Homo sapiens: one gene and its partners. The protein of the gene in region 3 purifies or fractionates together with the protein of the main gene of each other region. This does not show direct contact. Each region holds a gene or a part of one and is shown on either strand. Other genes may lie near its edges. The genes, in order: RFWD3, CLSPN, PRIMPOL and SMARCAL1.

The links.
Region 1: the proteins of PRIMPOL (region 3) and RFWD3 purify together in Homo sapiens (affinity purification with mass spectrometry; one large-scale study listed by BioGRID and IntAct). This does not show direct contact.
Region 2: the proteins of PRIMPOL (region 3) and CLSPN purify together in Homo sapiens (affinity purification with mass spectrometry; one large-scale study listed by BioGRID and IntAct). This does not show direct contact.
Region 4: the proteins of PRIMPOL (region 3) and SMARCAL1 purify together in Homo sapiens (affinity purification with mass spectrometry; one large-scale study listed by BioGRID and IntAct). This does not show direct contact.

What each region holds. Positions count from the first base shown.
Region 1 is NC_000016.10:74,654,299-74,661,715, reverse strand, and holds part of RFWD3 (E3 ubiquitin-protein ligase RFWD3), read left to right. Parts: intron 1-262; exon of another isoform or gene 263-264; 5' UTR 265-266; coding exon 267-784; intron 785-7,417. UniProt on the Homo sapiens protein: E3 ubiquitin-protein ligase required for the repair of DNA interstrand cross-links (ICL) in response to DNA damage. Plays a key role in RPA-mediated DNA damage signaling and repair.
Region 2 is NC_000001.11:35,747,793-35,755,209, reverse strand, and holds part of CLSPN (claspin), read left to right. Parts: intron 1-1,273; coding exon 1,274-1,465; intron 1,466-3,703; coding exon 3,704-3,960; intron 3,961-5,398; coding exon 5,399-5,577; intron 5,578-5,678; coding exon 5,679-5,743; intron 5,744-6,605; coding exon 6,606-6,805; intron 6,806-7,148; coding exon 7,149-7,303; intron 7,304-7,417.
Region 3 is NC_000004.12:184,678,060-184,685,476, forward strand, and holds part of PRIMPOL (DNA-directed primase/polymerase protein), read left to right. Parts: intron 1-172; coding exon 173-335; intron 336-4,188; coding exon 4,189-4,277; intron 4,278-7,349; coding exon 7,350-7,417. UniProt on the Homo sapiens protein: DNA primase and DNA polymerase required to tolerate replication-stalling lesions by bypassing them.
Region 4 is NC_000002.12:216,474,984-216,482,400, reverse strand, and holds part of SMARCAL1 (SWI/SNF-related matrix-associated actin-dependent regulator of chromatin subfamily A-like protein 1), read right to left. Parts: intron 7,133-7,417; coding exon 6,950-7,132; intron 5,293-6,949; coding exon 5,192-5,292; intron 4,199-5,191; coding exon 4,102-4,198; intron 1-4,101. UniProt on the Homo sapiens protein: ATP-dependent annealing helicase that binds selectively to fork DNA relative to ssDNA or dsDNA and catalyzes the rewinding of the stably unwound DNA. Rewinds single-stranded DNA bubbles that are stably bound by replication protein A (RPA).

The DNA of each region.
Region 1 (7,417 bases), on a different chromosome or scaffold from region 3:
TATTTTGGAAGATACTACTATGATCACAGGACTTCATGTTTTCTAAGGGCAAACCGGAAAACTGGTTATAAATGCTTGTTATAGAGAGGAAAGTCCATTACCAAACACTTCTGACTTAAGTAGTTAAAATCTTCTCTTGAAGCTTCTCAGTCTTGCTAAGAATGATATTAAACATAAAATCAGAAAGATTAAATATGATTCTGTCACCTACATAGCATGTTTTATCTATTTTATTAATACTTTTTACAAATACTGTTTCTCTAGTGATGGCTCATGAAGCAATGGAATATGATGTTCAGGTGCAGTTAAATCATGCCGAACAACAGCCAGCTCCTGCTGGCATGGCCAGCAGCCAAGGGGGACCAGCCCTCCTCCAGCCTGTTCCTGCTGATGTGGTCAGCAGCCAGGGGGTACCATCCATCCTCCAGCCAGCTCCTGCTGAGGTGATCAGCAGCCAAGCGACACCACCCCTGCTCCAGCCTGCTCCGCAACTGTCTGTTGACCTGACAGAAGTGGAGGTCTTGGGAGAAGACACTGTGGAGAACATCAATCCAAGAACTTCAGAACAACATAGGCAGGGATCTGATGGTAATCACACCATCCCAGCATCTTCGTTGCATTCAATGACCAACTTCATCAGCGGACTGCAGAGACTTCATGGCATGCTGGAATTCCTGAGACCTTCATCTTCAAACCACAGTGTAGGGCCAATGAGAACAAGAAGGAGGGTATCTGCTTCACGGAGGGCAAGAGCCGGAGGGTCTCAGAGGACAGACAGTGCCAGGTAAATAAATATATGGATAAGTCTGTGATCATTGCTGTACTAGAAATTATGAAACTGAGGCTCTGCCATTCAAGGACTGACAGTGTGACTTTTGGCAAGTCAGGTAACTTCTGACCCCCAGTTCCTCATAGGTGGAAATAAAAGTGCTTGCCTTACTTCACAAAGTAATGAAGGGATAAGTTAAACTGTTGTGCCTTGAAAACTAGGTGGTAGTTTGTTGGCAATCTCTGTAGAGATTGGCTGTTGTTCAGATTGTGTCTTGTACACCAAAAATTCTTTCTTCACTTGCAAGTCTCTACTCACCCAAATTCATTATTCACTGGCATTCCACCTGGGGGCACAATTAATTAATTTTCTTTCATAGTCTTGGTTTGAACTTGCCTCTTGAAGGGCTTAGCTGTCAAGTCTTGACAGGGTTATTATGAAGAATAACAATTGCCTATACCCTGTCCGTTTTTTGGTTTTTTGTTTTTGTTTTTGAGACAGCGTCTCACTCTGTCGTCCAGGCTGGATTCCCGTGGCACAATCTTTGCTCACTGCAACCTCCATCTCCCAGATTCAAGCGATTCTCCTGCCTCAGCTTCCCCAGTACCTGGCATTACAGGCGCGTGCCACCACACCTAACTAATTAAACCTGTCTGTTTTTGGTTTTGTTTTGTTTTGAGATGGAGTCTCACTCTGTCGCCCAGGCTGGAGCGCAGTGGTGCGATCTCCGCTCAGAGAGGGCTTTGTTCAGGGTCTCATAACTATAGAATAGAGGAGTTAGCACTGATATTGGAGCCTGGATCTGCCCTGTTTTCTACATAGGCAGATGGAGGAAGCTTCGACGAAATCCCTTTGTTTTCTCTTTCTTCTTGTTTTTATTATTGTTATTTTTGAGACAGGGTCTCACTGTGCTCCCCAGGCTGGAGTGCAGTGGTGCAATCACAGCTCACTGCAGCCTCGACCTCCCCAGGCTTAGGCGATCTTCCTACCTCAGCCTCTTGATGATTAACTGGGACTACAGGCATACGCAACCATGCCGATGTTTTCTAACACTGTGAAAATATTGAGATGATACTAAAAAGTGGTAGCTAGGTCATCTATTACCCATGTTTTACAAATGAGGAAGCTGATGGGATAATTTGTGATTTGGTTGTGATAAGGCTGGAATTGGAATTGTGCCTTCTGTATCTGGATTCAGCATTCTTTTTCATGGATCCTGCTGATTTTAATGTTGGGGCTTGCCATGACTGTGGCTCCAGTGTCTGTAGTGCCCATCAAGGATGACAGATGCCTAGTTCTGTGTTGACAAGAGTTGCAAATGCATATTACTCTGGGTTTTTTTTTTGTTTTTAAGACAAGAGTCTTGCTCTGTCACTCAGGCTGGAGTGCAGTGGCGCAGTATCAGCTCACCAGGACCTCTGGCTCCCGGGTTCAAGCGATTCTTGTGCCTCAGCCTCCTAAGTAGCTGGGATTGCAGGCGTGCACCAGCAGGCTTGGCTATAGTCTGTTGTTTTAAGATGTCATTACTCACGTTATAAAGGCAGGGTAAGATTTCATACATTTGTGTTATAGGTGAAGGCACCTTATGGTGTAATTTGGGGACCCTCCCAAAGTAAATGGGCTAACTTTCCATGGTTGAGAGTTGTGAGTGGTGTTTCCAGGAGCTGGCTGACTGTCAGGAGGCCTCTTGCAAGTCCTCAGTCTTGCTTATCCATGCACTCATTCTTGTTGGGGGACGCAGAGTGGATTCCTCTTGGTCAAGCACAGTGACTTGTATTAACCAACTTAAGGGTGACACTTATAAACCAGATGCCAACTTACAAAGAAAAACAGAACCACTAGAGAGCCAAACAGAAGCCAAACTCTAGTGAGAAAATTGCTTGATGTGGCTGGGCATAGTGGCTCACGCCTGTAATCTCAGAACTTTGAGCGGCCAAGGCAGGCGGATCCCTTTAGGCCAGGAGTTCGAGGCCAACATGGTGAAACCCCATCTCTACTAAAAATACAAAAAATTAGCCGGGCGTGGTGGCACACACCTGTGGTCCCAGCTACTTGGGAGGTTAAGGCATGAGAATTCCTTGAACCTAGGAGGCGGAGCTTGCAGTGAGCCAAGATCTTGTCACTGTAATCCAGCCTGGGTGACAAGAGTGACTCTCTGTCTCAAAAAAAAAAAAAAAAAATTATAGAATCTGCTCAGGGAATGAGTTATACAGAATTTAAATGTTGAAAGATGTCAGTCAAGCTATTTGGCAGCCATAATCTGTCTCCACAAAGGGAATAACCTAAACGGTCAGGAAGTGTGCAGTTCAGTGGAAATTACATCAGTTCTGGAGCCAGGTAAATGTGATTAAAACTTTTTTCCCTGAAGTATGACCTTTCCCAGGACTAATCGCTTATAACTTCTGAATTTCTTGAGATGAATTTCTCAGTGTGGTGTTTGACATTTACTCATCTGACAGACTGTCCCTGGGCCAGGTGTTGAAAGCCTGGGCCAAGGTGAACAGCTTTTGACTCACAGTCAGCCAAGAAGCCAAAGCTATGGAAAGCTAAGTAGTGAGCTTATTCTTCCCAACAGGCTTAGCTGAGGTCACAAACTCCTTTCTGATTTGTTTGGGGCGGTTTCATTCTGGCAGTGGGGGTCATCACTCATTCATCAAATATTGATAACACTCCTCTGTGTGAGAGACTAAACTTTGCCCTAGATATATTGGTGAATAACACAGATCACAATATTGTTTTCCTGGAGCATACGGAGTCTAGGACTACAGAGAGTAGGGAAGGAGCAAAATTCAAAGTTGGTAAGTGCAGGGAAGGAGGAGAATTTCTTGGGTTCTAAATCTGTGCTCCCAAAGAGAAACCCTAGCACTGCTTCCTGTTGGTTTTCACAGTTCCCCTTTCCTGTGTTCTTGCCTGACTTTGGAAATTCTTTGCTACATAAAAGCAATATTAAAGAGTGATTTTTTTTAATCGTCTATCACTTTTTTACTGGGTTCTATGTAGAATTCTATTGATATACGTGTCAACACCCTAACTCTAGTATGTATTTGATTAAATCTTCTTATGAAATGCTTTTCTTATGTGTTTAGTCTCATGGTAGCTATAGCTGCTGTTCACTTAGAATCTCAAGAAATGGAGTTGGTAAACTTGCTTAGCACTGTCTAAAAAGAAAACCTGGCTAGGCGCAGTGGCTCACACCTGTAATCGCAGCATTTTGGGAGGCTGAGGCAGGCGAATCACCTGAGGTCACGAGTTCGAGACCAGCCTGGCCAACATGGTGAAACCCTGTCTACTAAAAATACAAAAATTAGTCGGGTGTGGTGGCGGGTGCCCATAATCCCAGCTGCTCAGGAGACTGAGGCAGGAGAATCGCTTGAACCCGGGAGGTGGATGTTGCAGTGAGCCGAGATTGCGCCACTACACTCCAGCCTGGGCCGCAGAGCGAGACTCCGTCTCAAAAAAAAAAAAAAAGAAAAAGAAAACCTGGGTGATGTCAGTGAAAATGGCAGAGTAAGGACCACAGAGAATTATCTCCATGGAAGTAGTGAAACAACTGGCAGAATTTGTCAGGATCAACTTTTTCATAATTCAGGAAACTGACCAAATGCTTATAGCAATCCAGGGAGTGATTATTAAAGAAAAACAGCCGAATCTCATTGAGCTCTATGGCATTCCTTATTCTTGTCACCTTCTCCAGCTCCTTGATAGTTGTGAAAAGCATCTGCCTGTAATCATAGTAAAAACCAACAGCCTGGCAGGCACCAGAGGGATTGGAGCACCTTCAAAGCCTCATTCCCAGAGAATTATCTTTATATGACCTGTTGGTGGTTCTCTGGAAAACCCCATTTGCAAGACTACTCTTGACTCTGAGCAATGCAGAGTGTGAAAAGCCTAAATCATTTTCCCTGGGGCCTGCCTGAGGTAATGGATATTCAGTGGGATAAGCAATAAACTAACCAATAAGAAGGAAAGGAAAATCTAGGAATGAGATCAATTCAGTCACATCTTCTAAGTCTAGTTCTCTTGCTGTTTCTAGCACATCTGCAGTTACTTTCTTAACTGAAGTCTTGAGCCCGGCAAAAGTCATCCATAAGAGTTGACATCAACTTCTTCTAAATTCCTGATAATGTTGATATTTTGGCCTCCTCCCATGAATCATGAATGTTCTTAGGGGCATCAAGGATGGTGGATCCCCAAGGCACAGTGGCTCATGCCTATAATCCCAGCACTTTGGGGGGCTGAAGCAGGCAGATTGCCTGAGCTCAGGAGTTCAAGACCAACCTGGCCAACATGTTGAAACCTTGTCTCTACAAAAAAATACAAAAATTAGCTGGGCATGGTGTGCATGCCTGTAGTCCCAGCTACTTAGGAGGTTGGGGTGAAAGGTTCCAATGAGCCAATATCATGCCACTGCACTCCAGCCTGGGTGACAGAGCCAGACCCTGTCTCCAAAAAGAAAAAAAAAGAATGGTGGATCATTTCAAGGTTTTCAATTTACTTTGTCCAGATCCATTAGAGGAATCACTGGCAGCTATCATCTTAAGAAATTAAAAAAAATAAAATAAAAAAAGCTTTTCCCCACAGCTAAGAGTCACAACAAAATATTTCTTTTCTTTTCTTTTTTTTTTTTTTTTTTTTTTTGGCAAGACAAGGTCTCACTCTGTTGCCCAGGCTGGAGTACAGTGGTGTGATCATGGCTCACTGCAGCCTCAACCTCCCCGGGCTCAGGTGATCCTCGATCCTCCTGCCTCAGCCTACAGAGTAGCTGGGACTAAAGGCACAAGCCGCCACACCCAGCTAATTTTTTCTGTTTTTTGTAGAGATGTTATTTCATTAAAGTACTGAGATTACAGGTGTGAGCCACTGTGTCTGGCCTTATTTCTTAAATAATAAGTCTTGAAAGTTGGGCTGCAGAATATGTTATATTAACAGACATGAAAATAACATTAATCACCTTCAGAGCTCTTGGTTTACTGGGTGCATTGTCAATGAGCAGTAATATATTTAAAGGAATCCTTTTTTCTGAATAGTAGGTTTCAACAGTGGGCATAAGTTGTAAGACATACTCTAAACAGATAAGCTGTTATCCAGGCTTTGTAGTTCCATTTAGAGAGCACAGACATAGGCCGGGTGTGGTGGCTCACGCCTGTAATCCCAGCACTTTGGGAGGCCGAGGTGGGCAGATCACGAGGTCAGGAGATGGGTGAGACCATCCTGGCTAACACGGTGAAACCCCGTCTCCACTAAAAATACAACAAATTAGCCAGGCGCCACTGCACTGCAGCCTGGGTGACAGAGCGAGACTCCATCTCAAAAAAAAAGAGAGAGAGCACAGACAGAATAAATTTAGCATAATTTTCAAGCACCCTAGGATTTTCAGAACAGTAAAAGAGCATCGGCTTCAGCTGGGCATGGTGGCTCATGCCTGTAATCCCAGGACTTTGGGAGGCCGAGGCGGGCGAATCACGAGGTCAGGAGATCGAGACCATCCTGGCTAACAGGGTGAAACCTCATCTCTACTAAAAATACAAAAAAAAAAAAAATTAGCCAGGCGTGGTGGCGGGTGCCTGTAGTCCCAGCTACTCGGGAGGCTGAGGCAGGAGAATGGCGTGAACCCGGGAGGCAGAGCTTGCAGTGAGCCGAGATCACGCCACTGCACTCTAACCTGGGCGACAAAGTGAGACTCTGTCTCAAAAAAAAAGAGCATCGGCTTCAACTGAAGTCACCAGCAGCATTATCCCCTAACAAGAGAGTCAGCCTGTCCTTTGAGCCTTGAAGCCAGGCATTGACTTCTCTGTAGCTGCAAAAGTCCTACGTGGCATCTTCCAATAGAGGGGTGTTTCATCTACACTGAGAATCTTTTTAGTGTAGATACTTTCATCAATTGTCTTAGCTAGATATTCTGGATAACTTGGTACAGTTTCAATGTCAGCGCTTGCTGCTGCTTCATGCACTTTATGGAGACAGTATCTTTTCTTAAACCTCATGAACCAGCCTCTGCTTTCTTCCAACTTCCTGCAGCTTCCTCACTTCTCAGCTTTCACAGAATTAAAGAGAGTTGGGGCCTTCCTCTGGATTAGGGATTCACTTAAGGGAATGTTGTGGCTGGTTTGATCTTCTTTCCAGACCACTAAAACTGTCTCCATATCAGCAATAAGGCTGTCTTATCATTCATGTATTCGCTGTTGTAGCGCTTAATTTTCTTCAGAAACTTTTCCTTTGCATTCACCACTTGGCTGTTTGGTGCAAAAGGCCTGGCTTCTGGCCTATCCCAGCTTTTGACATGCCTTCCTCACTAAGCTTAATCACTTTAGCTTAGTGATTTAAAGTGAGAGATGCCTGACTCTTCCCTTAATTTGAACACTTAGAGGCCATTGTAGAGTTACTAACTGGCCTAATTTCAGTATTGTTTTGTCTCAGGGAATAAGGAATCCCAAGGAGAGGGAGGGAGGGGAATGGCTGGTGGGTGGAGCAGTCAACATACACAACATTTACTGATTAAGTTCACCATCTTATATGGGTGTGATTCTTGCACACCAAACTTGTAAAAATTACATAACACACTCCTAAATAACAGAGGAACAAACAAAACCCAACACAGGCAGACAGAAAGAAATAATAAAGGTTAGCATATAAATAAATGAAATAGAG
Region 2 (7,417 bases), on a different chromosome or scaffold from region 3:
AGAGGATCACCTCTAAGCTTGGGGAGATTGAGGCTACAGTGAGAGCCAAGATTGCACCACTGCACTCCAGCCTGGGCGACAAAGCGAGACTCCATTTAAAAATAAACCATTTTATCATGGACGAGAAGGCCGCCTGAAAATATCCAGTGTGCATCAACTCCAAAGGAACTTTCTCCTTAAAACTGCCAGCTCTCATCACAGATTCCATTATGATATGAAGTGTTAAGCAGAGTGAGTAGGGATTGGTTCCAGGTAACAGCTAGCTGAGGGAGAAGGAAATTCTAAGATATTGCAGTGGGGAAGAGGGGTAAGTTTATATCACTATTGGATTGCTGAACTTACTGTTCCCAGTATATATATATTTCCGTTTGTATACAAGTTGAGCATGTGGTACTGGGGCTGCAGTATTTTCTTTCTCATTGTACCAATTGTACTAGTGTAACAGTTTTCACCAAAAAACTTTTTACAGTCCTGCTGCTTAGTTATATCACTGACTGGATTGTCATTTTATTTTCCCTTCTTGAAAAAAATTGACTTTGCCTATATTTAGTAAGATTGCCAATAATGAAACATTCAAAATAGGGAATTTGATCCCAGCACTTTGGGAGGCCAAGGTGGGCTGATCATTTGAGGTCAGGAGTTCGAGACCAGCCTGGCTAACATGGTGAAACCCTGTCTCTACTAAAAATACAAAAAAATTAGCTGGGCATGGTGGTGCTCACCTGTAACCTCAGCTACTCAGGAGACTGAGGCAGGAGAATCGCTTGAACCCTGGAGATGGAGGTTGCAGTGAGCTGAGATCACATCACTGCACTCCAGCCTGGGCAATAGAGTGAGACTGCATCTCAAAACAAAAACAAAAAACAGCAATAACAAATAGGGAATTTTAAAAGGAGACCAAAACCCATGAAAAATTAAGCCCTTGAATAGATGAGATTATAATCTTTTTTCCTACCAGTTTAATACTTTTAAAGAATTTTTAAAGAATGTTCAAAAGAATTGCACATATTTAGAAATTTCAGGTATAAATTTCTGTCTGATTTTTTAAAGTCTGATTTTTGAAACGTTGAGGAAGAACAGTTGTGGCAGTCAATTAGTTTGGGTTAAGTTGTATGAATTTGACTCAGGAGTTAGTAGCAAGGGGTTTTTGGTTTCTCTGTGTATGTGTGGTTTCCCTCATAATTGTTGAGCTAAAAAAAACTTAGCTTATAAGTCTTAAAGGAAAGAGTTTTGAGCATGGCAAACTGACACACTGGTTGGCGTTTGGGTTTAGAACTGGAAGCCTTGAAGCAGCGTTTCTGGAAGCATGCTAATCCAGCAGCCAAACCCAGGGCTGGTCAGACAGTGAATGTGAACGTCATAGTGAAAGACATGGGCACTGATGGAAAGGAAGAGCTAAAAGCAGATGTGGTACCTGTGACTTTAGCACCTAAGAAGTTGGATGGAGCAAGCCACACAAAACCAGGTATTTGAGCCCACAGGTTTTGTTTTTTGCTTTTTGCTTTGTATTCTAACAGATCTTCAAGGCTATTGAAAACCTTATAATGAAAAGTTATAGAATCTTTTTCCTTGGAGGCTTTGCAGAGCAGTATCTCTGGCATGATTCACGTGTAGCACACCTAGAGGTGTGGGGTGGACAAGCTGGCTTTATTTTTTTTTTAGATATCATTTGTCTTATTATAAAAAACCCCATTATAGACAAATATATAGAATAAATGAAAAACTTAATCTTCTATCAGAGACAGGTTCTATAACCATATCGTGTATCCTTTTAAACTCTCTTCTTTGCACATATGTATATGTAATTTAAACAAAAACAGGCTGGGTGCAGTGGCACATGCCTGTAATCCTAGCACTTTGGAAGGACAAGGCAGGAGGATCTGTTGAGCTCAGGAGTTGGAGACCAGCCTGGGCAACATAGTGAGCCCTCATCTCTACCAAAAAAAAAAAATTATCCAGGCATGGTGGCCTGCACCTGTGGCCCCAGATACTTGGGAGGCTGAGACAGGAGGATCATTTGAGCCAGGAGGTTGAGGTTGTAATGAGTCATGATTGTGGCACTGCACTCCAGCCTAGGCGAGAGAGTGAGACCCTGTCTCAAAACAAAAAACCCAAAACAAAACAACCCACCTATAATGTGATCATAACATGCATTCTGCTTTGTGTTTTAGAAATGTATTAAGGACAGCTCTCACCCCTCCCTTGAAATCACAAGTAATATATCACATGGAAAACAGTTTTAAACACTGAAAAAAGGTATCAAATGAAAAACTAGTCTTCCCAAAGATAACTATTAACAATTTCTTGTATGTCTTTATAGGAGTATTTTTATCCATATACCGTATTTTGTGAATGTGTGTGACATTGAACATTTACTCCCTGTCAGGCATTGCTCTAGGTGCTTTATATGTTTTATCTCATTTAATCCTTACAACCCTATGAGGTAAATAACATTAGTATCCTTATTTTGTATATGAAGAAACTGATATGCAGAGCACTTAAGACACTTGCTCAAGTTTACACAGCTAATAAATGGTAGGACCAGTAGTCTAATCCAGACCACCTAACTCCAGAGCTCAGATCTACTTTATATTGCTTTTGAGGCTTTTTTTTTTTTTTTTTTTTTTCCTCTAAGACAGAGTCCTGCACTGTCACCCTGGCTGGAGTGCAATGGCACGATCTTAGCTCACTGCAACCTCTACCTCCTGGGTTCAAGTGATTCTCCTGCCTCAGCCTCCCGAATAGCTGGGATTACAGGTGCCTGCCACCATGCCTGGCTAATTTTTGTATTTTTAGTAGAGATGAAGTTTCGCTATGTTGGCCAGGCTGGTCTCGAACTCCTGACCTCGTGATCTGCCCACCTTGGCCCCGCAAAGTGCTGGGATTACAGGCGTGAGTCACTGCGCCCGGCCTTGAGGCTTTTTTTAAAATGGCTGCATAATATTCCATTGAATGAATACAACATGACTCATTAAACCATACTCGTATTGACAGATGTCTTGTTTGTTCCAGTTGTTGCTATTGCATACAGTGTTATATTATAGTGCCAGATATATGGTGGTATATTAGATGAAAATTCCTTACAGTGGAATTGTCATGATATATATCACATTTTGATATATATCATCCAGTTGTCTTTCAGAATGGTTGTACCACTCTGAATCACAGTGTATGAGTTCCTGTTTCCTCTCAATAGGTATTATCAAACCTTCTAATTTTTGCCAGGCTAACATGTCGAAAATGTATCTCGTTATTTTGATTTGTAGCTCTTCAATTAGAAGTGAGATTAAGCATTACTTTTAATTTATTAACAATATATGTTTATTTTTCGTGAACTGCCAGTTCATATCATTAGCTCATTTTACTCGAGTCGTTTCTCTTTTTCTTTAATATAGGTAAATTTATCAATGTTTTTCTTCATGGCTTTTGAGCCACAGACTTGAAGCTCTACTCCCTACCCACCTTTTCTCTCTTTTGAACAATTATTTTATAATCCCTGAGTAGTATACTATCTAGGGTGCAGAAGTTCTCTTTGATACTTCAATTCATAATAATACTCTTGTGTTCAAATAACAAAAAAGCCCAGAATACTAGAGTCTCAGATTTTCCTTTTGGGATGTGACTAGAATATTTCTGGAGTTGCCTAAAATGCATACCTAATTATTGTATTATGTCTAAAGCATTTCTACATATTTCTGTTCAGGTGAAAAGCTTCAGGTGTTAAAAGCTAAACTGCAAGAAGCAATGAAACTCCGAAGGTTTGAGGAGCGCCAGAAGCGCCAAGCACTGTTTAAATTAGATAATGAAGATGGGTTTGAGGAAGAGGAGGAGGAAGAGGAAGAAATGACAGATGAGTCTGAGGAAGATGGAGAAGAGAAGGTAGAGAAAGAAGAGAAAGAGGAAGAACTAGAGGAAGAGGAGGAGAAAGAAGAGGAGGAGGAAGAAGAAGGAAATCAGGAGGTTTCTGGCAATTACGTTGTTTTGTTACCTTGTCATGGTGAATATGAGAGAAAAAGTCAGACTTGAAAAAGAGTATAATAAGCATGTTCAATTGTATAAGAGGTTTTAGGGGCATGATGAGGGTAACTACCTCATATATCCCTAAATCTTAGGAACTTCAGTTCTGTCAGTACCACTGAATATCTGTAGATCATCATTATATATCTGAATACAGATATTCAGTGGTACTGACAGAATACCATTGCCTGGGCTTCCACCTGTTTATATATTTTAATATAATAATGCTAATATTAAAAATGGCTTTGTATTCGTAGGAAATTTTATCTTTGTTGTTTATTTAGGTTTCTCTAGCAGATTAAAAAGCAGTCCTAACCTTGGCTAGATTGAGGCCTGGAGTAAATTCTTAGGGAGGTAGAGGCCTTTCTGAGTTATTTTCGTTCTTTGTAGAAGAAGGCATTTGTAGAAGGGCCTCTTGCCCTTGTTCCGTAGTACTGTTTTCTGCCTAGGGAAAACAGGTGATGATACGATTGTTAAGTATTAAAAAACTTTCCTTTTTGGGCCGGGCAGGGTGGCTCATGCCTGTAATCCTAGCACTTTGGAAGGCTGAGGTAGGTGGATCACCTGAGGTCAGGAGTTTGAGAACAGCCTAGCCAACATCGTGAAAATCCATCTCTACTAAAAATACAAAAATTAGCTGTGTGTGGTGGCACACACCTGTAATCCCAGCTACTCAGGCAGGAGAATTGCTTGAACTTGGGCAGTGAAGGTTGCAGTGAGCCAAGATTGTGCCACTATACTCTAGCCTGAGCGACAGAGCAAGACTGCATCTCAAAAAAAGAAAAAAAAAAAAAAACTTTCCTTTTTGTATGCTGGGATCACTTTATTTTATTTTATTTTATTTATTTATTTAAATTTTTTTGAGATGAGGGTCTCACTATGTTGACCAGACTGGTCTCGAACTCCTGGCCTCAAGTGATCCTCCCATCGTTGTGGCCTCCCAAAGTGCTGGGATTACAGGCATGAGCCACCATGCCCAGCAACTTGAGTTATTATTTAATTTTGGGTAAAGGAGAAAGAAAGCAATGGCTGAGCTATACAGCCTGTCTCAGTCTGTGCTTGGTTTGAGATCAGTAGTCAGCCTGCAATCTTAGACTGATTAATTAACCTCTTACTGCCTCAATAAAATGATAATCCAGTCGTCCTTTATAATCTTAGCAATTTCGGGAGGGTAGAAGGTAAAAAAAAAAAATAGAAAAAAGTTCTAGAAGTGTCAGGGAAAATTATGTTGATAATGGTCATATGGAACTTCCTTCAAGTTTACCTTTTTGAATTTAAGATGTGATCTGTAACCAATCAGCCATATTTCAGGCTACCAGTGTATTTGCTTTTAAATGTTTTGACTTGTATTTTTTGTTTTGTGGTGGCCTGATTGGTAAAGACTGCAGAATTCCTTCTTAGTAGTGAAGAAATAGAAACAAAAGATGAAAAAGAAATGGATAAAGAAAATAATGATGGCAGTAGTGAAATTGGCAAGGCAGTTGGCTTCCTCTCTGTTCCCAAGTCTCTCTCATCAGATTCTACTTTACTTCTGTTTAAGGACAGCTCTTCCAAGATGGGGTAAGTGATTCTCTCTAAGAAAACTTAAAATTGCCTTGGATTTGCCCCTCCTGTAAAAACTAGGAACAGATACTGAACCAATTTACTTTCTTATTTTGCAGTTACTTTCCTACTGAAGAAAAATCAGAAACAGATGAAAACTCAGGCAAGCAGCCTAGCAAACTGGGTAAGTAGTGATTCTTGTGCAGAACTTAACATTTCTTTTGTCCCTCAGCTTTGATATTTAAGGACTGCAGTACGGTAAGTTTCCATGTTTTTAAATCTGGTCACTTCCCAGTTTCATATGTAGCTATGAAAAGGGTTTATGAATTAGAATATTTTTCTTGGTCTATTTTTTGCAGTTTATTTATAGTAGACCATGGTACATAATGTCCTTAGTGAATGTGTGTTGATTGAGTGAGCAATGAAATGTTTCTGTATGTAGATCAAAGGAAGACGTATAATTGATTGGACAATGAAGAGTGTGATCATAGGCATTAGGAAGGATAAGAGAAAGAAGAGAACTTTCGGCCAGGCGCAGTGACTCACGCCTGTAATCCCAGCACTTTGGGAGGCTGAGGCAGGCGGATCATGAGGTCAGGAGATCGAGACCAGCCTGGCTAACATGGTGAAACCCTGTCTCTACTAAAAATATAAAAAATTAGCCAGGTGTGGTGGCACGCGCCTGTAGTCCCAGCTACTTGGGAGGGTGAGGCAGGAGAATCGCTTGAACCTGGGAGGCGGAGGTTGCAGTGAGCCGAATTCACGCCACTACACTCCAGCTGGGGTGACAGAGCGAGACTGTCTCAAAAAAAAAAAAAAAAAAAAAAAAAGAACTTTCAAGTGTCACTTAGCTCAGAGTAATAAGCCCTGATTATATAATGCTATCTTAGTACTGTAATTTACCTTTAACTTAATGTTTTGGAACATATAACTTGAGGGGTTTGCCTATGAATTTTATCTGACAGTTTCATCCTCAACTCTTTTTCCTAAACAAATCCACCTTATTTCTGTAATCATGTGCTTAAAAGGTGTTTCTCTTTCTTTAGATGAGGATGATTCATGTTCATTGCTAACAAAGGAGAGCAGCCACAATAGCAGCTTTGAGCTGATTGGCTCCACGATTCCATCCTATCAGCCTTGCAACAGACAAACAGGCCGTGGGACCAGTTTTTTCCCTACAGCAGGAGGATTCAGATCTCCTTCCCCTGGGCTATTTCGAGCCAGTTTGGTCAGCTCAGCTTCTAAGGTAAGATGGTAATGGTTTTTCTAATCTCCTCCTCTCTTTGCTTCCCACATTGCTAAATAAAGTTTGTCCCAGCCAACCAACTCCCACCACGTTGGTACTGAGCTTATGTGTGTTCAGTTTAAAAAATCCACCCCCTTTGTGTATTAAAAACAAGCTTCATCCAGTATTCTTACTTTCTTGGAGGTATTTTTCTTTATGCTTCTCATGGCTGTGTATTGTCCCCCTCAACTACAATTTCCTGAGAGTAGCTTAAATATTGCAAATAGCAACTTTTGTGGTTGTCATGACAATGACTGACATTTGTAAAATGTTTTGTTATTGTTTGTTTTTGTTTGTGTGCCAGAGTTCAGGGAAACTGTCTGAGCCTTCACTTCCCATAGAGGATTCCCAGGATCTGTATAACGCCTCCCCAGAGCCTAAGACACTTTTCCTAGGAGCAGGAGACTTCCAGTTCTGTTTAGAAGATGACACTCAGAGCCAACTGTTGGATGCAGATGGGTAGGTAGTTTTGTGTTTCTGTGGGCGGGAATGGTGCTGGGTACTGCTTAATTTTGTTTAAAAATAAGTGAGCTTCTGTCACTCCATCTGTGCTTTCTCTTCTGAGAAAGAGAA
Region 3 (7,417 bases):
GCTGACTGCAATTTGTTTTAATTTATATAGTGCTTTAATTTTATTTTGTTTACAGCTATATATAGAAAATAATTATTTTTTATTAATGCTATATAAAAACTTAATATTTGCTGACTATGAAACTAATAACAGAAAACATGCTTTCATATTGTTTTATCAATTTTTGATGTAGGAGTTTATACAAGAAATAGAAACTTTCGGCTATATAAATCATCAAAAATTGGAAAGCGTGTGGCTTTGGAGGTTACTGAAGATAACAAATTTTTTCCTATACAGTCAAAAGATGTTTCTGACGAATATCAATATTTTCTCTCTTCTTTGGTCAGCAATGTCAGGTATGTAGTAGCAGCATCAAACCATTTTGTATTCATGAATATTTATTAAACAGTGAATGGCATTGTATATTACTAAAATGTAAATCATCTAAATTCATTCTACCTTAAGAAAATGTCAGTTCTTACAGCTCTTTTTTTTTTTTTTTTTTTTGATACAGAGTCTCCCTCTGTCACCCAGACTGGAGTGCAGTGGCGCTATCTAGGCTCAGTGCAAGCTCTGCCTCCCGGGTTCATGCCATTCTCCTGCCTCAGTCTCCCAAGTAGCTGGGACTACAGGCGCCTGCCACCACACCCGGCTAATTTTTGTATTTTTAGTAGAGATGGGGTTTCACCATGTTAGCCAGGCTTGTCTCGAACTCCTGACCTCAGGTGATCTGCCGACCTCAGCCTCCCAAAGTGCTAGGATTACAGGTGTGAGCCACCGCGCCCAGCCAGTTCTTACAGTTCTAAGTTAACTTTTCTCTTTTCTCCATTAGCTAAAAGATAATAGTAAAACGTATATTTGAACACTTAATTTTCTCTATATATCTTTTTAGGATTATATTTAGTGTATTTTCCAATTTTTCTAAAATGATTATCACTTCTGTAAAGAAGAAAACAATACTACTGGTATTGCATTTGGAAATATTTTACTATTAAAATGTCTCATTTTCTTTTCATGTATGCACATACATATAATTTGTATAGCTCCTTTAATCAAAAAATATTCTGAGATTATTATTTAAATGATTGTCATTTGTTTTTTCTACTTGATTTTATGAATATTTGTTAAGAATTTGCCAACAATTAATTGTAAATAAAACTTCTAATGCCTATGTAAATTTCCATTATATTGACACTGGAATTTATTGTGAGTTCTATTGTTGAGCCTTTAGGTTCCCATGTTTTGATCATTTTTTAAAAGTGTTAATGTTGGCTAGGCACAGTAGCATGTGCCTGTAGTCCCAGCTACCCAGGAGGCTGAGGTAGGAGGATCACTTGAGCCCAGGAGTTCAAAGCTGCAGTGAGCTATGAATGCACCACTGCACTCCAGCCTGGGTGACAGGGTGAGACCCCATTGCTAAAAACTAAAATAAATAAATAAATAAAAATAAAATCTGTGAAAGTCATCTTTCAACAGAAATACTATAGTAAGTCTTCATTTGATGTTGATAAGTTATTGGAAACTGAACTTTAAATAATGTGTGATGAATCCAGTTGTTTTTCTCATCCATGTTAGAAGGTAGTGGTCCCTGAGTCACAGACCAGTGGTCTGTGGTGGGAACTGGACCCCACAGCAGGAGGTGAGCAGTAGGCGAGCGAGCGAGCAATACCACCTTCCCACCTCAGCTCCGCCTCCTGCCAGATCTGCAGTGGCATTAGATTCTTATAGGAGTGCAAATCCTGCTGTGAACAGCACATGGGAGGGATCTAGGTTGCACACTCCTTATGAGAATCTAATGCCTGATGATCTGAGGTGGAACAGTTTCAGCCTGAAACCAGCCCACCTTGCCCCTGCCCCACCCATGGAAAGATTGTCTTCCAGGAAACCGGTTCCTGGTGCCAGAAAGGTTGGGGACTGCCGTTATAAGGAAATGATGTTGAACAAAACAACATTATTCAAAGACCTGCTAGATGTCATTTCTCTTAGAGTTGCAGTTTCCAAGAATCTATCCATGGCCTTAAGTGAGGACTTAACTGTATTTGCCTTCATTCCCTGTTTTTCTAGGCTGGCAACTTTTTCAGCCCAAAACATGGTTAAGGTTCAGACTAAATTACCATCAACTTGCCATAATTCTTTTCCTTTTGCCTTTCTAAATATAATTTTTTTTTTGAGACAGTCTTGCTCTGTGGCCTAGGCTGGAGTGCAGTGGTGCGATCTCAGCTTACTGCAACCTCTGCCTCACAGGTTCAAGCGATTCTCCTGCCTCAGCCTCCCAAGTAGCTGGGACTACAGGTGTGTGCCACCACACCCAGATAATTTTTGTATTTTTAGTAGAGATGGGGTTTCCCCATGTTGGGGGGGCCGGTCTCAAACTCCTGACCTCATGTGATCTGCCCACCTTGGCCTCCCAAAGTGCTGGGATTACAGGCGTGAGCCACCGTGCCCGGCCACTTAAATATAATTTTAAGGAAAGATTCTCTAGAAATTAATTTTAGTAATTGTCTAAAATACATTGCTGTAGGTATCAGGTTGTACAGTTAACAGCCGTTACCCAGGAGGGTGGAAGATGGATTGTTTTTCTTCATATATATATATAAGTATATTTGTACTCTTTGAGTTCTTTAATAACATGTCTCAGAAGTAAGGTCTGAGTTTCCTACTTTTAAATGGAAGTGATACTAACACCTATCTTACGGAGTTGTCGAGAGGATTTAAAAAGTTAAAACTGCACATAAAACATTTACAGCTGTGCCCAGCCCATGACATCTGCTCAGTGAATGTTGTTGGTAGCAGTAGTAGATCCGGGATTCTGAAGTGCAAAGTGCCGTAGCAGGAGTGTAAAAATTGTGTAATTCCTGCCACACCCTATTGGCACCAGAATAAGGTCACATTCTTTCTGCCACGTATGGAGAAGTGTGAAAAGCAACATTGTTAGTTCTAGCTCATATGGGAAAAGCAACTACAGCCCGAAGTGCAGGTAATCTCCCGATTACCCAATCTCGTTTCTTTCGCAGTTTAAATATGAATCTTACAGAGGTGGAGGGTTCTTCTACTGAATACAGTTACCTTGTCTTTTGTGTATTCCAAGTAAATACCAGGTAGTTTACTTCTTGAAATAAAGGCTAAATCCTTTATGGTTATGAATGTACCTTTTCTTTCCGTTAATTTTAATCTGTTTTTCCCCTTTGCTCTCACCCCTCCTTCTTTCTTCATTTCTTCCTATAAGTCACACCTCTAAAATTGTTGTAACAAAAAATTCAAAGGCTCTTTGTGTTTGGTGAATAGAGTTATATAGTCGTCTCCTGGTGTCTGTGGGTGATTATTATTCCAAGGTCCCTGTGGATACAAAAATCTGCAGATATAAAAGGATGTACTATTTTCACGTAACCCACACGCATCCTCCCTATATAATACTGTAAATCCTTCTAGATTACCTATACCTAATATAGTGCACATGCTATATAGTTGTTATACTATATTGTTTTTAATTTGTATTATTTTTATTATTTTTATTGTTTTTTTATTTTTATTTTCACTTATTTACTTATTTTTTTGAGATGGAATCTCACTCTGTCTCCCAGGCTGGAGTGCAGTGGTGCAATCTCAGCTCACTGCAACCTCTGCCTCCTGGGTTCAAGCAGTTCTTCTGCCTCAGCCTCCCATGTAGCTGGAATTACAGGCGTTTGCCACCATGCCCAGCTAATTTTTGTATTTTTAGTAGACAGGGGTTTCACTATGTTGGCCAGGCTGGTCTCAAACTCCTGACCTCAAGTGATCGGCCCATCTCAGCCTCCCAAAGTCCTGGGATTATAGGCGTGAGCCACTGCATCTGGCCTATTTTTATTGTTTTTTAAAAAACATACTTTTGATCTGCTGTTGGTTGAATCTGCAGATAAGAAACCATGGACACAGGGCTTCAGCAGTCCTAGAGTCCCCTGATCCATTCTGTAATTAAGGATAGTATTATAAGTAATCACCAACCTACTCTTTTAAAAAAATTATTTTCTTTAATTGACAAATCATATTTTTTTTATATGTGTAGGGTTTGTGGTTTTGTGGGCAAATGTGGCATAAATGTCCTAGAACAATTATCTGCTGAACAAAGGATTTTAATGAGGAACTATTAGGAATTCAGTGTCCTTTCTGTAGCCAGGCCTTGTTAGTTCCAGTGTGATGGTGCTTTGTTTCTTTTACCTATTTCTTCTTCAGGTTCTCAGATACTTTACGAATTCTTACATGTGAGCCATCTCAGAATAAACAAAAAGGAGTTGGATATTTTAACAGTATCGGCACTTCAGGTAAATTTTTTGATGTTTGTTTTTCTTTTTGAGACAGCATCTCTCATTGTCACCCAGGCTGGAGTGCAGTGGTGCGATCTCGGCTCACTGCAGCCTCCTCCTCCCAGGCTCAAGCCATCTCCTGCCTCAGCCTCCGGAGTAGTTGGGTTTACAGGTGTGCACCATCACGCCCAGATAATTTTTGCATTTTTAGTAGAGATGAGATTTCACCATGTTGCCCAGGCTGGTCTCAAACTCCTGGGCTCAAACGATCTGTCTGCCTCAGCCTCCCAAAATGCTGGGGTTACAGGTGCAAGCCACTGCACCCAGCTACTTCAGGTAATTTTTAAAAAATAATTTCCTATCAAAATGTAAGGGTACAGAATCTGTTTTGCCTTTAAAATCTTCAGTGTTAAGTGTTCATAATCACTGACCTTTCAAAAACTACCTCTAGCCAAGCACAGGGGCTCACACCTGTAATTCCAGCACTTTGGGAGGCTGAGGCGGGAGGATCACTTGAGCCCAGGAGTTAGAGACAATCCTGAGCAACTTAGCAAAACCCTATCTCTACAAAAAATCCAAAAATTAGCCAGGAATTGTGGTGCATGCCTGTAGTCCCAGCCACTCAGGAGGCTAAGGCAGGAGGATCTCTTGAGGCCAGGAGGTTGAAGCTACAGTGAGTCTTGTTGGTGCCATTGCACTCCAGCCTGGACAGCAGAATCAGACCCTGTCTCAACCAGTCAATTAATCAATTAATCAATCAGTAATCTACTTCAGGTTTTCTATCTCAAATGGAAAAAGTATGAGAAAGATGTTTATTAAGAAGTATTATTCACTGGGCGTGGTGGCTCATGCCTCTAATCCCAGCACTTTGGGAGGCTGAGTCGGGCAGATAACCTGAGTTCAGGAGTTTGAGAACAGCCTGGCCAACATGGTGAAACCACTAAAAATATAAAAATTAGCAGGGCATGGTGGCGGGTGCCTGTAATCCGAGCTACTCAGGAGACTGAGGAGGAGAATCACTTGAACCTGGGAGGCGGAGGTTGCAGTGAGCTGAGATTGTGCCATTGCACTCCAGCATGCGCAACAAGAGTGAGACTCCATCTCAAAAAAAAAAAAAAAGTATTATTCACTAATTTCACTAATTTTCATTTTATGGTGTTTTTCAAAAAACTACAAAAATAATGTAGGTTAACAAAATGAAAATGTAAAGTTCTTTTTCACTCTTCTGTCCATGATCAAAGGCAGGTAACCACTGCAATCATTTGCTATTTAACCTAGAAGAGCGTTTCCTATATTTCCTATATATAGAGAGAGATCTTCCTCAGTCTTTTAATGGTTGTATAGTTTTTCATGGTATAGCTCTGTCATAACTTACCCATTCCTCTACTGAAGAACATAGAGTGTTTTTTTCAAAGATTTCTTACATAAGCCCTCCAGTAAACATTTTTATACACATATTTTCATATATTGTTATTTATAATAGCAAAAAACTGACAGCAATCTAAATGTACAACAAAATTGAATTGGTTATATACTATGAAATCCTCTAGCTGTTAAATTTAAATTTGTGAAGCCTGTATAATGTGGAAAACACCCATTTGTGATGTTAAAAGAAAAACTAGTCTCTAAAATTATGTGTATGGTATGATTACAAGCTTTAAAATATGGATAAATTTTCTTATGTTTATTTTCTTGTCTTATATGTATTTATAGACATTGATTTAGAGTCTGCCTCTCACATTTCCACATTAATATATTTTTCAATATTTCTCCAATTATATATATTATTTTAGTAAGTGAAACATAAACTTCATTTAAAGCAAACTAGATTCTTGTCCTTAAAAATTAAATGATACTGGCTGGGTACGGTGGCTCACGCCTGTAATCCCAGCACTTTGGGAGGCCAAGGCAGGCGGATCATGAGGTCAGGAGTTCAAGACCAGCCTGACCAATGCAGTGAAACCCCGTCTCTACTAAAAATACAAAAATTAGCAAGGCGTGGTGTTGCACGCCTGTAATCCCAGCTACTCAGGAGGCTGAGGCAGGAGAATCGCTTGAACCCAGAAGGCCGAGCTTGCAGTGAGCCGAGATCGCGCCACTGCACTCCAGCCTGGGCAACAGAGCAAGACTCTGTCTCAAGAAAAAAAAAAAATTAAATGATATTTAAAATAGGTCATTCTAAATTACTACAGTAGCTTTTTAGATAGAAAATATAATTGTATTGTCAGTACCTTCCAGCTAAAGGTCTCAGGGCACACACCTGTAGCAGGTCAGCTGAGTGTATTGCCAGGAAAGCAATGGTGAGCACACACCATGGGAAACTTCAGTAAAGTGGGGCATCTTGGGAAGAGGAGGTTGGAAAGGACCGGGAGGATTGGATTTGGGCTTGGAATGGGTGGCTTGGGGGAGTATACCAGGAAGTTTGGGGTTTGTTCTGAGTTGGGTGTTGTTAGGGACAATTCTAGGACTGGTTTTCTTAGTAAAGCTTAACTGAAAGGAAATCAGAATAGAAATTAACACTGTACTTTGTTAAAAAAAACAAACAAAAAAACCAGCAGTTGCTTCTGTTAGCTGGGATCGGGGGTGTTGGTCATGTTTGTGGTTTGGAAGATGTTCCTGTTTTGCCTGTGTTGGGACATGATTACAGAGTGGTTATCTTTGTGCCTTGAGTCCTCATGACCACAGGGGCCTTATCTGTTGTTGAAGTTCTGTGAGATTGCCTGTGTTCACAGGAGAATGCCCGGCTGAGGTAGGCGTGCCAGGCTAGTGCATGGCAACACCAAGACCTGGCTGATGGAGCTAGGCCTGTTATGGACGTGAGGGACTGCCTTTCTCTTTGCCAAAATGAAGACAGCAGTTGAAATTATTTCAAACGCTTTTTATGAAATTAGTTAACATTTGACCTAATTGAGAGGTTTGAATCTTACCTGCTTCCTTGTAGTGTCACAAACATGAATTGACTGAAATTGCAAAGAGTGAGGGAAGGCTGAGAGATTGCAAAACCCGTAATTGTGCTCAACAACATTTAATCAAAATTTAACTTCTCAACTTTCAGCTATTGTAATTTATAAACCATTCTCTCTGTTGCAGTAGAAACCATTGAAGGTTTTCAGTGTTCTCCCTATCCTGAAGTTGATCATTTTGTTCTTTCTTTGGTG
Region 4 (7,417 bases), on a different chromosome or scaffold from region 3:
CACCCAAGATCTCACTTCCTCCAAAGCCTTTCTCTACTAAGGGTCAGTTAAGGTATAATTCAACTTCTAAATCTCTATTTTTAAATTTATTTTTATTTTTATAATTTTTTAAGAGATGGGATCTCACTAAATGTTGCCCAGGCTGGTCTCGAACTCCTGAGCTCAAATGATCTGCCCACCTCAGCTACCCAAAATGTTGGGATTACAGGTGTGAGCCACCATGTGCCCAGCCCCCCAACTTCCAAATCTCTGTGTTCAGCCATGGCTTATACCTAATTTTCAAAGTAGTTGAAAAAACATACACACATTTAACATATTCATAAGTAGATATGTGTACCTATTCTGATTACCTTAAATTACAAATAATCAAAATACCCACCAACTGCATCTATACATTGATGACAATGGTGTAGTGTTAAAACCATGCCCAGTGGATACAACCACAACACACGATCACTATCACCCCTCTGCCGATTTTTCCTACATCTAAATTTCCAACTTTGACCATTTTTCAATTTAGAGGTATATTTTCCATATCTCCACTGACATCCCACAGTTTCATAAAACTAAACTGGTTTAAAATCAAATGATCTTTTGGCTGGGCTCAGTGGCTCTCACCTGTAATCCCAGCACTTTAGGAGGCCGAGGCGGATGGATCGCCTGAGGTCAGGAGTTCGAGACCAGCCTGGCCAACGTGGTGAAACCCCATCTCTACTAAAAATACAAAAAATTAGCCAGACATGGTGGTGCGTGCCTGTAGTCCCAGCTATTTGGGAGGCTGAGGCACAAGAATCGCTTGAACCCACAAGGCAGAGGTTGCAGTGAGCCATCATCACGCCACTGCACTCCAGCCTGGGTGACAGAGTGAGACTCTGTCTCAAAAAAAAAATAAATACATAAAAATAAGGCTGCTGCAAGGGCTCACGCCTGTAATCCCAGCACTTTGGGAGGCCGAGGCGGGGGGATCATCTAAGCTCAGGAATTAGAGACCAGCCTGGGCAACATGGCAAAACCCCATCTCTATCAAAAATACAGAAAATTGGCCGGGTGTTGGCAGCATGCGCCTGTAGTTCCAGCTACTCGGGAGGCTGAGATGGGGGGAATCACTTGAGCCTGGGAGGCGGAGGTTGCAGTGAGCCAGCATAGTGCCACTGTACTCCAGCCTGGGTGACAGAGTGAGACCCTGTCTCTAAATAAATAAATAAATAAATAAATATAAAAAATCAAATGATCTCTCATCTCCTATATTCTCAAAGCAGCTTCTCTTCCCATAAGTCTAGTTTTTATAGTCTACCTGCATTCTCGTAGTCTCCCAGGTGGAAATCATCCAGGCAAACAGAGTCCTCGGCTTATGCAAGTTTGTTCCCCCCATTAGTTCCCTCCTCTCTCCTTCAGGCACCATCTTTACTTGGGCCACATCACTTGGTACTGCATGGATTTGCAACAGCTCAACTGCGCTTCCTGCCTCAGGCTTCTTCCCATTTCAAACAGCCTACAGATCTTTGCCAGCTGATTTTTACCCCCAGGCTCTCCTTTAAAGATTTTTTTGGTCATGTCTTTGGGCTCCGCTGTCCCTACCTCATCAAGTCTACAGTTGCTCCCCTGGCTTTTCAGGCCTTTATAGAATTAGGTCTCAACGTACCTGGCCACTGTTCCTCACTATTCCTTAACCAAATCCCTCCACATTGGTGAAGTAGAGTTCCTTGAAAATTGATCATGACAGCCTGTCATGTAAGAACTCCAGATTATTCAATTAACCTGCACCCGAAATCTCCTAGCCTTTCAGGATCCCAGCCTTGCAGAGAGGGAAATGATATGAAAGATCATCAAGGCTGACCCCCAAATAACCCACATGTCCTCCTCCAGGATGCCCTCATCAGCCTCTTTCTGAATGACTGCAATGTCAAGGAAACGCCACCCTGCAAGGCAGCCTATTCCAAGTAGAAAAAGCTGCTAATGTGCATTTGATTATGATGATGGCAACACTGTATGCTGACTCGGGGCATGCATAATTAATTGGAAGCGAGTTCCAAGATCAGATTAATATTTCATTTCCCCTCTCAGAAGGAAGGCTATCTCAGTGAGATATAACCTCTTCTGCTTTTGTCTCCTATATTGGAAGCAACATTTTCTTTTTCTAGTAGTTGATAAAATTTTCAGCCCCATCTTAATTAAAAAATAAATTGATATAGTTATTGATCAAAATATTGATAAAACTCATTTATATTACCTTGTACTTATATTTTAGGTAGAAATGCTTAACCAATTTAGAGTAAGAGAAAGGCAAGGAGGAATAAATGAGTTCAAGTGAGAATCCTTTAAAAATAGGCTTTCTTTTTTTTCTTTTTTGAGACAAGGTCTGTCTCTGTTGCCTAGGCTGAAATGCAGTGGTGTGATCTTGGCCCACTGCAACCTCTGCCTCCCAGGTTCAGGGAATCCTCCTGCCTCAGTCTCCTGAGTAGCTGGGAATACAGGCATGTGCCATCATGCCTGGCTAATTTTTGTATTTTTTGTAGAGATGGGGGTTTCACCATGTTGCCCAGGCTGGTCTCAAACTCCTGGGCTCAAGTCATCTGTCCGCCTCAGTGTGGGATTAGAGGCTTGAGCCACTATGCCTGCTCAGACTATTTCTTTTCAAAAGGCTTGTAATAACCTAGGCTCTGTTACCATTTACCATTCAGCTGAACTGGAGAGTTCTTTAAAAAGCTTAAAAATAAGGTTGTTTTAAAATTGGCTTATTAACTATATATGTCTGAAAGGATAATTTGCAGTCTGCATTTAAAAATATGATCTGAGTCTTATTTATCCCAATATTTAGCAAATAAATCCTTGCAAAGAAAGAATTTATTTGCTAAATAAATGTAAGTGAATGAGCAGATCCACAGAGTCTTAAGTCTTGGTGTCAACGATAAGATTTAACTCAACTTCTTATTTATTTAAACTTTTTTCTTTCTCTTTTTTTTTTTTTGAGGCAGGCTCTTGCTCTGTTGCCCAGTTTAGAGTACAGTGACCATCATGGCTAACTACAGCCTTGACCTCCTAGGCTCAAGTGATCCTCACCTTTTCCTCTGGAGTAGCTGGGACTACAGGTGTGCACCACCATGTGTGGCCTAACTCAATATTCTGATGGTGATTTCACAGGAAGGAGGAGGTGCTTCACTTTCCTGATAAGCTACCGTAAGGCCCCTTTCTGCATGAGGCTCAGACCTGGTTCAAACTCTCCTGGCAGAAACAATTCAACCATGAGCTGTGCTCGAGGAGGGCATACTCCTGGTTTTCACCTTCTGGCCAACAATCCAAGCTGGGGAAGGAAAACAAGCTTTTGGAAGGCTCTGGGTCTCTTGCTCACTCCACTGTGTTTCACTGAAATGGGGGAGGAAGAGTCTGTGGCAGCCACTGGGCTGCAGCACTGAAACCAGGCAGGCATGATGGGCCCAGGGCTGTCCTGTTCAGAGGCAACAGCCTTCCCCCTCAGCACCTTTGACAAGGCCTGCCTGGTCATGGAGGGATGCCTCTTATACTCCTTTACAACAAGGGCTGAGCTCAAAGGAGGAATGCTGGGCCAAGTCAGGAAGCCTTCTTCCTTGGGCTGGCTTCACATGCCCTGTGACTTTGTGCAAACCTACTATACTGCCATGTCTCAGTTTACCCCTCTATCAAGTGGGGAGACACTGAGAATAAATAAAATGACAGAAGGGAAAATATATTCTATGAAGCCAGTACCCTATTTTAAACACTCCCCATTCTGTGCTGGGGATGCATTCCTGTGGCAGCCCTATGTGTGGTGTTGCTGTGTACTTTTTGAAACAATTCAACATTTGCCATGGGGAGTTTTGTCAGTTTCTAATGGCCTGCTGGAAGAGGCAGCATTCAGAGCCTGTGCGGGAATGTCAGCAGCTGTAGGAGCTAATGCCATCATTTCCCCATAAAGCGATGCATGCATGGTTCAACTGAGAATGACTGCAGGCCATTGTTTTCAGCTCTAGGCTGGGGGAGGTCCCTAGGAGTGATTCACATCCTCCTACTCAGGACCCAAAGACTTGGCAGACAGCTTAATGCCTCCCTCTGCTCCAGGGGTGAAGAGCCATGTGCTGGCATTACCTTGTAGAGGTAATCAGTGGATTCTGTCATTTCTGAAAAATTGGTCTCAGAAAGCCCGGCTTCTGCCAGAACTTTAATCTTCTCTTGAATCAGGGGCCTGTTGGGGAGAAATGAGCTGCAGTGAATACAACCTGCACAGAACCACCAGACTAATGAAAATGAGGCCACCCTCCTTGTTCTTATGGGACAACGGCTTGTTTACGGTTTCACATCTCTGCATCTCTCAAGGTGCAAACACCCATCTTGAAAAATTTGCCCCCTCTCATTTGTAAAAACTCCAATTTAGGGCTAAGAATATCATCAGGTTCAATATTCTTTCTAATGGAAGATGTGTAGGAAATAAATGCTGCCTCATTTCAACACAATTTTGAATCTGGTGGTATTATGAGCTGCCCAATTAACAAATCCACTAAAAAGGGGGAAGTAGGAGTGACCCACACACATTGCAAAGGGAAGACTCCTTAGTCATAAGGCTGGAAACAGAGACAAGCAGTGGAAACAAATGAGATAATCAAGAAATTTTGTATCAGGAAGGGGGAGATAAGGGGAAGAAGCTTTTTGAGATTTTTCACTTAGGTAACAGACAGAAAACCCTAGGGTTGAAAATCTTACTCCAGCTCTGCTAACGAAGTACACTACACAGTCCAGGGTAAGCCACTTTCTCCCTGTGGTCCAGCAGCAGCAATGTAAGATGTGCCCACCAGATAAATGCACATCATAAAAGGTAAAAGACTGTCACCCTGTCCTAACAAATGCCTTCACAGCTGGGAACAGGGTGTTTTACAAACTAAATTCCATCTATATTTTGTCATAATCAGCACTTCTCCCTGCCTCAGACCAGCAGCAAAAGGAGCCACAACCCCTTATTGCTATAAGATTCAGCATGCACCCTGCAAGCCACCAGTGAACGCTAGTGAGGGAGGCCAAATATGGTCATGATGAAAGCAGGAGGGCATCACTAGTCAATTTTCTATAGATCCTTAAAGACCTTACTTAGCAAAAGCAGAAGCACTTTGGGAGCAAAGTAAACATATCATCAGTTTCCACCCTTGCTCGACTCCAACTGCCAGGCCACCCAACCAAGCCATACCAAAGGTAGTCATCAGCTGTGCCCTTTGCCACGAGGTAGTGAATGCCCACGGAGCTGGTCTGTCCAATGCGGTGCACGCGGTCCTCAGCCTGGATCAGCACCTGTGTGTCCAGGAATTGAGACAGGCAGGTAAAGGCCTGAAGCAGTTCCATCCACCATAGCAGGTATGGTTCCTCTCCACCCCATTTCCAGTCCCACCACAACCCTCCCTCCTCAAAGCACTTCACTGTCTCAGACCTAGAAATAACCTGCACTTTACCATCTCAGACCTACAAATGACCTGCCACTTTAACAAAAGAGAGAACCCAAAACAGCCCTGGCTGGGGAACTGGAATCTGAAGCAGAAGATCTGCAGGTGGCTGTTCAGTGCTGGGCACTGAGCTAGGTGCTGCAAATGAAGAGGCACAGGCTCTGCCATCAGGCTGCATGGGGAGGGGCTGGTGATGGAGGCCTGCACACTTCCATTTCTTCACTGTATGAAATAAAAAGTTATCTTCTAAATAAATAAAAACATCACACACAAGGGAGAGGCTATCCATGATTTGGGCATAGGGTGGTGGTTTAATATAGTGGTAAGCCTTATAATAAATACTTAAGGGCTGGATGTGGTGGCTCACGCCTGTAATCCCAGCACTTTGGGAGGCTGAGGCAGGCAGATTGCTTGAGCCCAGGAGTTCCAGAACAGCTTGAGCAACATGGTGAAACCCCATCTCTACAAAAAATACAAAAATTAGGCATGGAGGCGTGCACCTGTAGTCCCCTGCTACTCAGGAGGCTGAGGTGGGAGGATCACCTGAGCTCGGGAAATCAAGGCTGCAGTGAGCCAGTAAGTCCCTGCAGTCCAGCCTGGGTGACAGAGCAAGACCCTGTCTCAAAAAAGCAAAAGAAAAAAAAAACCACCTAACATCATGAGCATTATTTCTTGTATAAAATGGCTACACCCTCAAGGTCTACCCATTATTAATGTAGTCTCTTATGTGTAGCCAATAAAAACCACAATATTATTAAATATTATATAAATATTAAAGGGGATATAACTTTTCTGGAGATTACCAGAAAAATTTAAGAGTTCAAACAAATGTCTTATCTCTGTCCTCAGTTGGTCAGGTGAGGCCAGTGGTGGTGTCCAGGAAACCCTCACTGCTGTCACTCTGTGTGAGGTCCATTGTTAAAGCAGCTCACAATGATGGCTACTAAAGGGGGCACAGGCTGGAACGTGAGGCCTGGGCTGCAACCTGGTGCCACCAAGTGCCCTCTTCAGTTATGGCAGTGCAGTCCTGCCTCACCCCTTGAGCTCTCGGTGCCCTAACTTCCTCCTATGAGACATGAAGTCAAGATTCCTTCTAGCCCTGGAAGACTTCAACCTTCCCGTTGATAAAATGGAGTCGATAATCCTACAGGTTGCTGTGAAAATCTAGAAAACAGCCAATCGCCTGGCGTGGTGGCTCACACCTGTAATCCTAGCTACTCGGGAGGCTGAGGCAGGGGAATCGCTTGAACCCAGGAGGCGGAGGTTGCAGTGAGCCAAGATCATGCCACTGCACTCCAGCCTGGGTGATAAGAGACTCTGTCTCAAAAAAAGAAAAAAAGAGACTAGTCAATCAACATAGAAGTGCTTAAAGGAAGTGAAAACTGACTTGTGGGAAGTATAATGAATGGATAAAAGGGAAACCACACTTTCCCCGACCGACACTCACTGCTTCCTGCCCACAGCCATGAGCATGCCTGGGGAGTATCTGAGTCTTCTGCGTCTCTTACCCCTGGGTTCCAAAACAGCTCAGCAAACACCACCAGGTCAGCCGAGGAGAAGGTGAGGCCCATATTGGCAGCGGTGATGGACAGCACGGCCACAGCATGCCTCTCCGACAGTTGGAACTGCTGGCACAGGTCCTCCCGCTCAGCTGATGAGGTGGAGCCATCGATGCGGATGTGCTGCACGTGCTGCAGGAACAAGGGGCAGAAGCAAGGTGGGCAACAGCCCCGGGGGCTTCTCAGCAAACCACACCCAGCCACAGCTCCAGCACAGAACCAGGTTCCAGCTCAGCAGAGGCCCCTGCCTTCAGAGCTTTTCTTTTCAAATTGACATTGGTATTGAGATGACTGCTTATACTCAGGTGCCATTGTAAGAAATAATAGAGATCCCTCTTAGGCCTTTGCCCAGTTTCCTGCAGTGGTAACATTCTATAAAAACTATAGTATAATACCACAGCCAGGATGCTGACTTCT